Homo sapiens: one gene and its partner. The protein of the gene in region 1 interacts with the protein of each later gene in a biochemical or structural test. Each region holds a gene or a part of one and is shown in the gene's direction. Other genes may lie near its edges.

Evidence for each region. Proteins that work in one complex are often made in the same cells at the same time.
Region 2: the proteins of ITGA2B (region 1) and CLNS1A form a complex in vitro, tested with the Homo sapiens proteins (one study listed by BioGRID).

Annotation. Positions count from the first base shown.
Region 1 is NC_000017.11:44,372,634-44,379,649, reverse strand, and holds part of ITGA2B (integrin alpha-IIb preproprotein), read left to right. Parts: intron 1-939; coding exon 940-1,007; intron 1,008-1,140; coding exon 1,141-1,288; intron 1,289-1,859; coding exon 1,860-1,952; intron 1,953-2,561; coding exon 2,562-2,641; intron 2,642-3,261; coding exon 3,262-3,342; intron 3,343-3,465; coding exon 3,466-3,565; intron 3,566-3,664; coding exon 3,665-3,817; intron 3,818-3,933; coding exon 3,934-4,059; intron 4,060-4,538; coding exon 4,539-4,652; intron 4,653-4,889; coding exon 4,890-4,991; intron 4,992-5,179; coding exon 5,180-5,296; intron 5,297-7,016. UniProt on the Homo sapiens protein: Integrin alpha-IIb/beta-3 is a receptor for fibronectin, fibrinogen, plasminogen, prothrombin, thrombospondin and vitronectin. It recognizes the sequence R-G-D in a wide array of ligands.
Region 2 is NC_000011.10:77,634,777-77,641,862, reverse strand, and holds the start of CLNS1A (methylosome subunit pICln), read left to right. Parts: upstream 1-4,068; 5' UTR 4,069-4,148; coding exon 4,149-4,273; intron 4,274-7,086. UniProt on the Homo sapiens protein: Involved in both the assembly of spliceosomal snRNPs and the methylation of Sm proteins.

The DNA of each region.
Region 1 (7,016 bases):
CCTGATAGCAAATCAGGATTAGGGTTAGTGCCAAGTCACAATGTGAACCCCAAAACCTTGATGTCATTCCAAACCCTAATGAAAACCTCAAAATCCAGCCAGTCATGGTGGCTCACACCTGTAATCCCAGCACTTTGGGAGACCGAGGCAGGCAGATTGCCTGAGGTCAGGAGTTAGAGACCAACCTGGCCAACATGGTGAAAACCCATCTCTACTAAAAATACAAAAAAAATTAGCCGGGTGTGGTGACGCATGCCTGTAATTCCAGCTACTCGGGAGGCTGAAGCAGGAGAATCACTTGAACCCAGGAGGCAGAGGTTGCAGTGAGCCAAGAGTGTGCCACAGCACTCCAGCCTGGGTGACAGAGCAAGACTCTGTCTCAAAAAAAAAAAAAAAAGCCAGGCGCAGTGGCTCACGCCTGTAATCCCAGCACTTTGGGAGGCCAAGGCGGGTGGATCACGAGGTCAGGAGATCAAGACCATCCTGGCTAACACAGTGAAACCCCGTCTACTAAAAATACAAAAAAAAAAAAAAAATTAGCTGGGCGTGGTGGCGGGTACCTGTAGTCCCAGCTACTTGGGAGGCTGAGGCAGGAGAATGGCGTGAACCCCGGGGGGCGGAGCTTGCAGTGAGCCGAGATAGTGCCACTGCACTCCAGCCTGGACGACAGAGCGAGACTCCGTCTCCAAAAATAAAATAAACACCTGAAAATCCCAGTATCCCCTAAGCTCTGATGTAAATTGACAAACCCTGACATTGTCCCAAACCTCCAAATAAACCCGAGCCCCGATACCATCTACAAACTCCTTTTCGTCCTCAGATCTTCTTACTCCCTAAGCCCCTATGTGAACCCCAAGCCCACTGTTTTCCTAACCCTGATGTAATCCCTAAACCTCACACATCCCCAACTTACCCGCACACCCCAATGTGCCCCTCTAGACACGAATCGTCCTGGACTGTGGGGAAGATGACGTATGTGTGCCCCAGCTTCAGCTCACTGCCAGCGTGTGAGGAGGCCTCCCATTCTGCCCGACCCTGGCCCTTTCTGCCTATCATACCTGCTCCACACCTTAGTCCCCTCTTTTCCCACATCCTGGGCCCAGACCCAGGCTCCCTGGCTTCACTCCTCTTTCCCCACAGGACGGGCTCCCCGCTCCTAGTTGGGGCAGATAATGTCCTGGAGCTGCAGATGGACGCAGCCAACGAGGGCGAGGGGGCCTATGAAGCAGAGCTGGCCGTGCACCTGCCCCAGGGCGCCCACTACATGCGGGCCCTAAGCAATGTCGAGGTATGGCCCCCACCCTGGGAACAGTACCCGGGACCTGGGAGGCACTGGAGCCTTGGCTCTCTCATCTCCCTCCCTGAGAGTCCCTCTTCTCTTCTGCTTTGCTGTCAAAGATGTAATTTTTTATTTTTTTTTTAATTTGGAGGAGGAATACTTGCTAATGGCACAGAATTCCAAAACTCTATTACAAAAACCAGAAAAACAAAAAAGGTTTAGGAACCAAATGTTAACAGGAACCTCTGTTAACATTTGGTGGATTTCCTTCCAGTCTTTTTTTCAATATTGACTCACACTCACATAAGTATATATTTATTTTTTATGTTGTTAATATAGTTTATAATAATGGGGGTCATACTCTAATGTTTTGTGTTTTTTATTTCCAAAATGAAAATGCCTAAAAAGTAGTAGTGCTACAGCAATACACACACTAGCATGTGACAGTCCCTTGAGACCCCACCCCAAGAAACCCCCCCCTCCCTACCTTGGCACACAAATCTTTCCAGACCTTCCAAGGGAGCTTAAATATATATATATGATGCTCTGTAATTTCTTTCTTGGAACTGCCTTCCTGAAGGGCTTTGAGAGACTCATCTGTAATCAGAAGAAGGAGAATGAGACCAGGGTGGTGCTGTGTGAGCTGGGCAACCCCATGAAGAAGAACGCCCAGGTGAGGCTGCTGGGTCGTGGTACCGGGTCTCCACCAGGGGCTCATGAATAACCAGATTTTAGGGGTGAGGTTTTAGAGCCACATAGTTCTGGGCCAGAATCTTGGTCCTCACACTCCCTTGCCACATGTCCTTGGGTGAGTGACTTTCCCTCTCTGAGCCCCTTTACCCAGTGGGCTTCCAGGTAAAATAGAAATAATAATGGTGGCCTGGTGCGGTGGCTCACGCCTGTAATCCCAGCACTCTGGGAGGCCGAGACGGGTGGATCACGAGGTCAGGAGTTCAAGACCAGCCTGGCCAACATAGCAAAACCCCGTCTCTACTAAAAATACAAAAATTACCCGGGCATGGTGGCGCACGCCTATAGTCAGAGCTACTCGGGAGGTTGAGGCAGAAAAATCACTTGAACCTGGGAGGTGGAGGTTGCAGTGAGCCGAGATCATGCCACTGCACTCCAGCCTGGGTGACAGAGTGAGACTCCGTCTCGGAAAAAAAAAAAAAGAAAAAGAATAGTGGTGATCTTGGAGGGTGAAGACTGGAGGCCACATTCAGGGCAGGGCTGTCCTAAGTGGGGCACTTGGGCAGTGACCTTGGCCCTCCTCATCTCCCAGATAGGAATCGCGATGTTGGTGAGCGTGGGGAATCTGGAAGAGGCTGGGGAGTCTGTGTCCTTCCAGCTGCAGATACGGAGGTACTGACCTGGCGAGCGTGCCTACCCACCACCCTTCCCCCGTCTGACCCCCGTGCAGAGCCCCTCAGGTCCCTTCCATACAGAAGGGTCTTTCGAGGCCAGGCGCAGTGGCTCACACCTGTAATCCCAGCACGTTGCGAGGCCAAGGCAGAAGGATCACTGGAGGTCAGGAGTTGGAGACCAGCCTGGCCAACATGGTGAAACCCCATCTCTACTAAAAATATAAAAATTAGCTGGGCATGGTGGTGCGCACCTACAATCCCAGCTACTCGGGAGGCTGAGGCAGGAGAATAGCTTGAACCGAACCTGGGAGGTGGAGGTTGCAGTGAGCTGAGATTGGGCCACTGCACTCCAGCCTTCCAGCCTGGGCGACAGTGCGAGATTCTATCTCAAAAGAAAAAAAAAAAGGTCTTTGAAGAAGCCTGGTTCCCTTTCTTCCTCAGAGATTTATGTCTGAGTCTTGGAGCCCTAGAGGAAGTTCTTTCCCAGGTCTAACTTCAGTGTGGCATGCTCTTTGTATAATTAGCTCTCTCTGAACTCTCTAAAATTCTGGCCTCACCCCCAGAAAGTCACTGGGCTGGTGTCCCTGGCCCTGTTTCTCCTCATCCCCTCCCCTCTAGCAAGAACAGCCAGAATCCAAACAGCAAGATTGTGCTGCTGGACGTGCCGGTCCGGGCAGAGGCCCAAGTGGAGCTGCGAGGGTGAGAGGCCAGGGGTGGAGAAGGGAGATGGCATTCAGGGCTCTAAACTCCAGGGGGCGCTGGGGAAACCTCACAGGCCAATCAGGGCATCACACTCTCTCTGGGGGTCTTGGGCACCTGCAGGAACTCCTTTCCAGCCTCCCTGGTGGTGGCAGCAGAAGAAGGTGAGAGGGAGCAGAACAGCTTGGACAGCTGGGGACCCAAAGTGGAGCACACCTATGAGGTATTGGGGAGCCTCGCGTCCCTGGCTGGGGTGAGCGGGTCCTCAGAACTCCGGGTGAGGCGCTAAGCTCCCCACACCCTGCCACCACCACCCCTTCAGCTCCACAACAATGGCCCTGGGACTGTGAATGGTCTTCACCTCAGCATCCACCTTCCGGGACAGTCCCAGCCCTCCGACCTGCTCTACATCCTGGATATACAGCCCCAGGGGGGCCTTCAGTGCTTCCCACAGCCTCCTGTCAACCCTCTCAAGGTAAGAGCTGGGTGGAAGAAAGACCTGGGAAGGCGGCCCCAGACCAACCACCGGGGCACCTCTGTGGGCTGGGGTTCGGGGGAGACCTGGGCCTGACCACTCCTTTGCCCCCCCAGGTGGACTGGGGGCTGCCCATCCCCAGCCCCTCCCCCATTCACCCGGCCCATCACAAGCGGGATCGCAGACAGATCTTCCTGCCAGAGCCCGAGCAGCCCTCGAGGCTTCAGGATCCAGTTCTCGTAGTGAGCAGGCTCTCTGGTCTCTGGCCCGGCCTCCCCGGGACCCACGGGGCAGAGGGGATGGGAGGAGGGAGAGGGGTCCGGGTGTGCTGTGGGCCTCTGTGGGCCACGCTTGGTCCCTGGGAGCACTTCAAGTGAACATGGAGGAGCATGCTGGCTTGTGTCTGGGGTGAGCTGAAAGACACTTGCACTTTTTAAAAGCTTCCCAGTACGTTAAGGAGCATAAAACAATGCCAAAGCAAGGTTATCATAGATCTGAGCATTGTGCGCTGGGGGATGACCCTCCCTGCATCTCTGGGACTATGTGAGCAAGCCCGTGGAAAGACAGCATCCGAAGCTTGGATCCAAGGCCCTTCCTGATGGGAAGGCCACCGCTTCCTGAACCCCCGGCCCCTTCTGCGTTGGGTCCTGGGGGTAAGGGGGTGGGGGATGATGGGGTGATGGGCCGGGACGGGCTGGGGACTGACGATGCTTCCCCTCAGAGCTGCGACTCGGCGCCCTGTACTGTGGTGCAGTGTGACCTGCAGGAGATGGCGCGCGGGCAGCGGGCCATGGTCACGGTGCTGGCCTTCCTGTGGCTGCCCAGCCTCTACCAGGTGGGGTGGGCCGTGGTGGGGCGGGGCCGGGCCTTCTGGGCGGGGACCACTTTGCTCTGGGAGGGGCGGGGTTTGGTGTGGGAGGGCAGGAAGAGAGGGAAGGCAAGGTTTACTTTGGGGGATTGCAGTGGGATTAGGTCAGAGGCAGGGCTTCCCCGCCGGGGGTGTGGGACCTGGACTCCTGCAACCAATAGGCCTCTTGTGGGTGTAAACGGCTTTCAACCCCAACCTGTCCAGAGGCCTCTGGATCAGTTTGTGCTGCAGTCGCACGCATGGTTCAACGTGTCCTCCCTCCCCTATGCGGTGCCCCCGCTCAGCCTGCCCCGAGGGGAAGCTCAGGTGAGTGTGGGGGGATGGAGCAGAGACCAGTCCTGCAGGACCCATTGTCCCCCAGTCAGTGCCCAGCCAGAAAAGTCTGAGGGGTGGTACGGGTGGGTGGCATGGCTGGAGGTCACCAGCCTGAGGTTTGAGTCTTTGTGAAAGGCAGGTGTCAAGGTGACTGAGGAGACACGTGGGTTTGCCCCCAGGTGTGGACACAGCTGCTCCGGGCCTTGGAGGAGAGGGCCATTCCAATCTGGTGGGTGCTGGTGGGTGTGCTGGGTGGCCTGCTGCTGCTCACCATCCTGGTCCTGGCCATGTGGAAGGTGAGGTGTGAAGGACGGTGGAGTCCCCAGCGGGGCACAGGCTTGGCTCTGCCCTGCCTCACAGGGAGTCAAGGAGAGATGGTGGCCCACCCAAGTGGGTAATCCAGGGACCAGGGGTCTATGTCTCCACTATTAGAATGTCATTCTCGGTCCAGTGGGGTGGCTCACACCTGTAATCCCAGCACTTTGGGAGGCCAAAGCGTTTAGATCACCTGAGGTCAAGAGTTCGAGACCAGCCTGGCCAACATGGTGAAACCCCATCTCTACTAAAAATACCAAAATTAGCCGGGCGTGTTGACACATGCCTGTAATCTCAGCTACTCGGGAGGCTGAGGCAGTAGAATTGCATGAACCCAGGAGGCGGAGGTTGCAGTGAGCCGAGATCACACCACTGCACTCCAGCTTGGGCAACAGAGCGAGCCTCCATCTCAAAAAAAAAAGAAAAAAATAGAATGTCTTTCTCTAGTAGAGCAAAAAAGGCAAAACAAACACAAAAATGTCATTCTCCTGGGAACCCTTCCAGACACATACCACTGGAAAGGATAGCACCTGAAATTCTGAGGCCTTTAGACACCCCTGCCACCAAAAAGATTCAGAGGATATAGAGGGTATAGAGGGTGTAAGTCCTGCCTTCAGGAATTCCTGGCTGGTCTCAAGGACAAGATGCACTTCTTCCTAGCCCTGCCCTTCCCCTTGAGTGAGGCAAGAGGCCCAAGGATTGGTCTAGACCCTATTCCTCCCTTCCTATGTGGCCCTGGAGGGTCACTCGCTCCTCTGCACCTGGAGGAGTCTCAAGCACACTGAAGGGAAGACATGGTGCTTTTAGGGAAAACCACGCACTAGACCCACAATAATCAAATACATATCATCATATGCTCGAGTCATGCAGACACAAACTTCAGTATAAGAAAAATTCCAGGCTGGGCGTGGTGGCTCACACCGGTAATCCCAGCACTTTGGGAGGCCGAGGTGGGCGGTTCATGAGGTCAGGAGTTCGAGACCAGCCTGACAAACATGGTGAAACCCCATCTCTACTAAAAATACAAAAATTAGCCAGGCGTGGTGGCAGGCACCTGTACTTCCAGCTACTCGGGAGGCTGAGGCAGGAGAATCACTTGAACCCGGGAGGTGAAGGTTGCAGTGAGCCAAGATTGTGCCACTGCACTCCAGCCTGGGTGAGATTTCATCTCAAAAGAAAAGAAAAGAAAAATTCCAGGTGGGGACCAGGCGCGGTGGATCACTTGAGGCCAGGAGTTTGGGACAGCATAGTGAGACTCCATCTCTACAAAAAAGTTTTTTAAAAAAAATTAGTCAGGTGTGGTAGTCCACACCTGTAGTCCCAGCTACTTGGGAGGCTAAGAGGTGAGAGGATTGCCTGGGTGACAACAGAAAGACCCTGTCTCTAAAAATAAAATAAAAAAGAAAAATTCAGAGGCCGGGCACAGTGGCTTATGCCTGTAATCCCAACACAATGGGAGGCTGAGGCAGGCAGATCACCTGAGGTCAGGAGTTTGAGACCAGCCCGGCCAACAGGGTGAAACCCTGTCTCTACTAAAAATTAGCTGGGCGTGGTGGCACACACCTGTAAACCCAGCTACTCGGGAGGCTGAGGCATGAGAATTGTTTGAACCCGGGAGGTGGAGGCTGCACTGAGCCGAGATCGAGCCACTACACTACAGCCTGGGTGACAGAGTGAGACTCCCTCTAAAAAAAAGAAAAA
Region 2 (7,086 bases), on another chromosome or scaffold:
CTACCAGTTTCTTTCTGGCCTAGTCAGATATAAAAGGCCTCTAACTGGATTCAAGCCAGTTAATTACCAGATCAAATTTGATCCTGGACCCAGTCTAGTTTCTGTCGCAACTTCTAAACCTAGTTTGGAAAAGAAATTTGCTCAAAGAAACTCAGAGAGCTGGCCGGGTGTGGTGGCTTATGCCTGTAATCCCAGCACTTTGGGAGGCTGAGGTGGGTGGATCACTTGAAGGTCAGGAGCTCCAGACCAGCCTGGCCAACATGGAGAAACCCCATCTCTACTAAAAATATAAAAAATTAGCTGGGTGTGGTGGTGCATGCCTGTAATCCCAGCTACTCAGGAGGGGGCAGGAGAATTGCTTGAACCCAGGAGGCGGAGGTCACAGTGAGCCAAGATCTCGCCATTGCACTCAGCCTGGGCAACAAGAGCAAAACTCTGTCTCAGAAAAAAAAAAAAAAGGAACTCAGAGAGCTCAAAACACTAATCTGTGGAGCTCTGAAATCTGAGAGAGAACTTACCAGGAACCCCAGCTGCTGTGACAGATCAAAGGACACAGTGGATTCTGCAGGTAACTTGCTTGTTCACTCAGCACTCCTGGGGATCGTTACAACCTCTACTTCAGATCCCACTTCTGACACCATCTGTTAAAAGAAAAACTTCAGCAGAATTAAATTTCAAGGAGTTTAATTGAGCAATGAATAATTTGCAAATCAAGCAGCCCCCAGAATCACAGCAGATTCAGAGAGATTCCAGGGATGCCTCATGGTCACAACAAATTTATAGACAAAAAACAAGAGAAGTGATGTACAAGAATTGGAAGTGAGGTACAGAAACAGCTGGGTTGGTTACAGGTTGGCATCTGCCTTATTTGAACACAGTTTGAACACTCAACAGTGTATGAGTTGTTGAAGTATGGCTGCTGGGATTGGCCAAGGCTCAACTATTGTTACAGGTGAATACTCCTAAGTTAGGTTTTCAAAGTTATCTCCCTATTAACTTAGGTTACAGTGCATCCACAAGGACTCAAATATAGAAGTACAGAGCCCTCCTCAACCCATATTTAATTCACTTTAACACTACCAACAAACTAGTCTACGTTAAAGGAAAAAAAAATTTTTTTGAGATGGAGTCTTGCTCTGCCACCCAGGCTAGAGTGCAGTGGCACAATCATGGCTCACTGTAGCCTCCACTTCTGAGGCTCAAATGATCCTCTCACCTCAGCCTCCCAAGTAGCTGGGATCACAGGCACATGCCACCATGCTGGGCTAATTTATTTATTTATTTTTTGGTAGAGATGGGGGTCTCACTATGTTGCCCAGGCTGATCTCAAACACGTTAAAAATTTAATGCCAGCCTAACTGTTGAGAAGATAGAAACAAAACTACCCCACACATCCTGTCCTCCAGCCTCAGCAGTCCTACTGCAAAGGTATTACCATACTGAGTTTACAAGGGGATTTACTTGAATTTCACTTGTTCTCTCATGGCCAAATTATTGCTCTTGAGTTTAATGCCTCAGGTCTCTCATCTGTAAAGTGGGTCAATAATAGTAACTTCACAAACTTGCAAAGAGTAAATGAAGAGATGATGCAAGCAAAGTGCAGGTAAAGTGCCTGGAAGAGAGCCTGGCACAGAACACTCGTTAACTTTAGCTACCATTATGACGATTTTGGAAGTCTTTCTTCCTATTACTACTATACTCTTTAGTGCCTAACGAAGAAACAAAACATCAATTGCAATTTTGGTGGATTAATTCCTTTCCAGTCAGTGCCCCAGCTCCTTACTGATGTAGCTAGCTCTTCACCCTGCCCTTATTAACCCTTTATACTTATCTGCCCACCTGACACGTGGGGACGTGGCTTGTGCACTAGGGCAGTATAAGGACCTAGATTGATGTATGCTACTTGGTTGTGTATACCTGAGATGTGAACAGTCCCAGGAGATGGGGACGGGGTGGCCAGATCAGAACATCATAACCGAGTTGGGAGACTTCTGAGCTCCAGATGAGTGGTCTCTATGTCCTATGCATCCTTTGGCAAGGGACTCCATGTATTAGTCTTTCTCTCTTTGTTTTTTTTTTTTTTTTTTTTTTTTTTTGAGACAGTGTTTCGCTCTTGTTGCCCAGGCTGGAGTGCAATGGCGTGATCTCGGCTCACCGCAACCTCCGCCTCCCGGGTTCAAGCAATTCTCCTGCCTCAGCCTCCCGAGTAGCTAGGATTACAGGCATGCGCCACCACGCCAGGCTAATTGTGCATTTTTAGTAGAGACGGGGTTTCTCCATGTTGGTCAGGCTGGTCTCGAATTCCCGACGTCAGGTGATCCGTCCGCCTCGGCCTCCAAAATGCTGGGATTACAGGCGTGAGCCATTGCCACCGGTGTATTACTCTTTCTCTATTGCAATTCCCCTGTCTTGATAAATAGGCTCTGTCTAAGCAGCAGGCACGGTGATCCCATTGGGCAGTTACAACAGGGTTGTATGTAACTGGGTTACAGGGTTGTAACAGGGTTGCTGCTGTAATGGCCCAATGGGTTCACCTTGCCTGTTGCCTAGACAGAGCTGATTTATCAAGATGGAAATTGTAACAGAAAAACAGTAATTCACGCAGAGCTGCTGTGCAGGAGACTAGAGTTTGTTGTTGTTGTTTTGAGACGGAGTCTCTCTCTGTCGCCCAGGCTGGAGTGCCAAGGCGCGACCTCGGCTCACTGCAAGCTCCGCCTCTCGGGTTCACGCCATTCTCCCGCTTCAACCTCCCGAGTAGCTGGGACTACAGGCACCTGCCACCACGCCCGGCTAATTTTGTTTTTGTATTTTTAGTCGAGACGGGGTTTCACCGTGTTAGCCAGGCTGGTCTCGATCTCCTGTCCTCGTGATCTGCCCGCCTCGGCCTCCCAAAGTGCTGGGATTACAAGCATGAGCCACTGCACCCGGCCTAGAGTTTTATTTTTACTCAAATCAGTTTCCCAGAGCATTCAGGGATCAAAGTTTTTTTGTTTTTTGTTTTTTGTTGTTTTTTTTTTTTTTTTGAGACGGGGTCTCGCTCTGTCGCCCAGGCTGGAGTGCAGTGGCGCTATCTCGGCTCACTGCAAGCTCTGCCTCCCGGGTTCACGCCATTCTCCTGCCTCAGCCTCCCCAGTAGCTGGGACCACAGGCGCCTGCCACCACACCCGGCTAATTTTTTTGTATTTTTAGTAGAGACGGGGTTTCACCATGTTAGCCAGAATGGTCTTGATCTCCTGACCTCGTGATCCGCCCGCCTCGGCCTCCCAAAGTGCTGGGATTACAGGCGTGAGCCACCGCGCCCAGCCAGGGATCCAAGTTTTTAAGGATAATTTGGCAGGTTGGGGAAGGCCAGTGAGTCAAGAGTGCTGATTGGTTGGGTGGGAGATGAAGTCACAGGGAGTTGAAGCTGTCCTCTTGCGCTGAGTCAGTTCCTGGGTTGGTGGGGAGGGGGCACAAGATCACATAGCCAGTTTATCCATCTGGTGGTGCCAGCTGATCCATCAAGTGCAGGGTCTGCAACATATCTCAAGCACCGATCTTAGGTGCAGTTTAGGGAGGGTCAGAATCTTGTAGCTTGCAGCTGTAATTTCTAATCTAAACCATAATTTCTAATCTTGTGGCTGATTTGTTAGTCCTACAAAGGCAGTCCAGTCCCCAGGCAAGAAGGAAGTTTGTTTTGGGAAAAGGCTGTCATCATCTTTGTTTTAAACTTCAAACTGTAAACTAAGTTCCTCCCAAAGTTAGTTCAGCCTATATCCAGCAATGAACAAGGACAGTTTGGAGGTTAGAAACAACATGGATTTGGGTAGGTCAGATCGCTTTCAGTGTCTCAGTTATAATTTTGCAGTGGTGGTTTCACTGTGACAATCCTGAGGGACTTCCCACAGAACCCTCAGTTATTGAAGCCCAAAGCCTCAGAAATGGCGAGGAAGAAGGGGAAGGGTGTTGCGCGGTCAAACTCCACACGTTCTTAGCCGACCTCCGCCGCTTTTCCTAGAATGTCTCATCTCTATGGTCGACGGCGTTCAGATTCCGGGGCAGACTAAGTTGTTCTTCCGGGGTGACTGCCTCTTCCAGGGCGGGCGGTGTGGTGCACGCATTGCTGTGCTCCAACTCCCTCAGGGCCTGTGTTGCCGCACTCTGCTGCTATGAGCTTCCTCAAAAGTTTCCCGCCGCCTGGGCCAGCGGAGGGGCTCCTGCGGCAGCAGCCAGACACTGAGGCTGTGCTGAACGGGAAGGGCCTCGGCACTGGTACCCTTTACATCGCTGAGAGGTAGGGTTCCTGGTCCCCAGCGCTGGCCTCCTGCGCGCCGCCCTCCTCCTTGCTGGAGCAGGCGGTGCGAAGGAGCCGGGCAAGGGGCGGCCTGGAGGCCTGCTGGGAGCGGGGTCTCGTGCCCGACGCCTCAGGGATACCTGTAGCGGGTGGAAGGCTCGATTTTTCTAGTACTCCTCCGGAGTCTTCCATTCTCTGTTTTCTCCGGCCGGAATTTCCCCTTATGGATTGTGCTTTTTTTTTTTTTTTTTCTTTTTTTCCTCTTTCTCTTTCTCTGTCTCTTTCTCTCTTTCTTTCTTCTTCTTTTCTTTCTTTCTTTCTTTTATTTTCTTTTTTTTTTTTTTTTAACTCGCCTATTTACTGGAGGTCTGGCGCGTGCGTTGCCCTTAACGCACGGTCTGGTTTTAAGGGTCTGAAGTGTGCCTGTCTTTCCGGATGAACAGATGCAGGAGATGTTCCCCTCTCTGGGATACGTAGTTTCAGAGCCGACTGTGGAGGACTTTTAAAGTTTGGTTACACAATAAAGATTTTCTTCTGTAGGTATAGTAAGGAGAGGAACACCCTTAACTCGACACAGACAGGGGTCATATGCAGAGGGACCAGACTCCCGTTTTGGGGTCCTGGAAGGAATTGCCCTTTTATTTGGCCACGTGGAGCACTTTGGTATTTTGACAGTCAGATAGATCTACCGTAAATATTGTGGTTGTAGAACAGAGGTCCCTGTTTCCTTGACATGCAGTTTTCTTTATTTTGAAGCCTGTAATGACACATCGAATCTTTCCTGCCCTTCAGATATGTGTTGCTTCCCCTTTTGCTCCATCACTTGTCTACAGCCAGAGAAAATTCTCTACTTTTAAGAGCTCATGTGATTACTTTGGAACCACCTGTAAAATCCAGGATAATCTCCCTATGTTACTGTCGACTGGTAACCTTAATTACGTTTGTGAAGTCCCTTTTGCTGTGTAATATAACATATTCACCCGCATGACACCAGAAAGTGAAGGTCGTGGGGCCAAAATTCTGCCTACTACAGAATCCAGAGCACAAAAACTGTAAAGAACCTCTGCTTTAAAGGGAAATTTAGACATTGAACAAGGTTTAGGCTTCAGGCCAGAAACTGAGATAGGACATATGGATGGGAGGAAAAGCAAGATTGAGGTGAGAGGCAGATAATGAGTTTGGTCAGGACATGTGTGGAGTAGTTGTACATATGACCGTGTTGGGCCGGGCGCGGTGGCTCACACCTGTAATCCCAGCACTTTGGGAGGCTGAGGCAGGCAGATCGCTTGAGCCCAGGAGTTTGAGATCAGCCTGGGCAGCATGGCGAAACCCAGTCTCTACAAAAAATACAAAAATTAGCCAGGCATGGTGGCGGCCTGTAGTCCTAGCTACTCAGGAAACTGAGGTGGGAGGATCACCTGAGCCCAGGAGGTCGAGGCTGCGGTGAGCCGTGATTGTGCCCCTGCACTCCAGCCTGCATGACAGAGTGAGACCCTGTCTCAAAAAAAAAATAAAAATAAAAAAAGAATGTGTATCTTGGGAAAGTGGTATTAAAGAGAGATGTTTGGAGGTCGTTAAAGTGTTAGTGTATACTCATGGAAATGGATTAGATATCTCAGAAGAGAAGAGGACCAAGTGTAGAACCCTAGGGATACGCCGACGGGTGGGTCATGAAAGAAGAAACTTGAGAAAGGAGGAAGGAGCAGTCAAAACAAAATGTGAAGAGCATATATTGAGTATTGACAAGGAGATCTTTGATAATTGGGGAAAGCAGTTTCTTTGAAGTGGTGGAAGATGGAGCACAGATACATTCCTAGTTCCCAGGCATTCCTTTTTTATTCATGACATTTCTGTATGTTGACGCTTCTTTCAGTATTATAACTCCTTTTGAGGGACAGTCCTGTATTGATTTTTGCATTTAGAAGAATTTCAAACCTAAGATCCAGTGTGGTGGCTCACGCCTGTAATACCAGCACTTTGGGAGGCTGAGGCGGGTGGATCACCTGATGACAGGAGTTCAAGACCAGCCTGGCCAACAATGTGAAACCCTGTCTCTACTAAAATACAAAAATTATCCGGGTGTGGTGGCGTGCACCTGTAATCCCAGCTACTTGGGAGGCTGAGGCAGGAGAATCGCTTGAACCCGAGAGGCGGAGGTTGTAGTAAGCCGAGATCATGCCATTGCATTCCAGCCTGGGTGACAGAGTGAGACTGTCTCAAAAAAAAAAAAAAAAGAAAAATTTCAAACCTAAAGAAAAGTTGTGTTATTACTACCCATACACCCTTCACAAAGATTTATTAGTTAACATTTTGCCATGTTTATGTCTCTGTTTTTCTTTTTTTTCTGAGCCATTTGAGAATTGTCGACGTTTTCCACTTCCTGTTCAGAAGAACAGGGACATTATCTTGTATAACCACAATACAATTCTCATACTAAGGAAGTATAACTCTTTTTAAGTTCTTATCAGCTTTTAAAAAATTCTTAGCCTGGGCAAGGTGGCTTACGCCTGTAATCGCAGCACTTCGGAAGGCCAAGGTGAGCAGATCCCTTGAGTCCAGGAGTTCTTGACCAGCCTGGACAACATGACAAAACCCCATCTCTGCAAAGAATACAAAAACTGCAAAAATTAGCCGGTCGTGGTTGCACGTGCCTGTAGTGGCAGTTACTATGGGGAGCTGAGGTGGGAGGATTACTTGAGCCTGGGCAGTTGAGGCTGCGGTGAGCTGTGATCACACTACTGCATTCCAGCCTGGGTGACAGAGTGAAACCTTGTCTCTGAAAAAAATTAAACATTATTTGTTTCAGCTTTTCA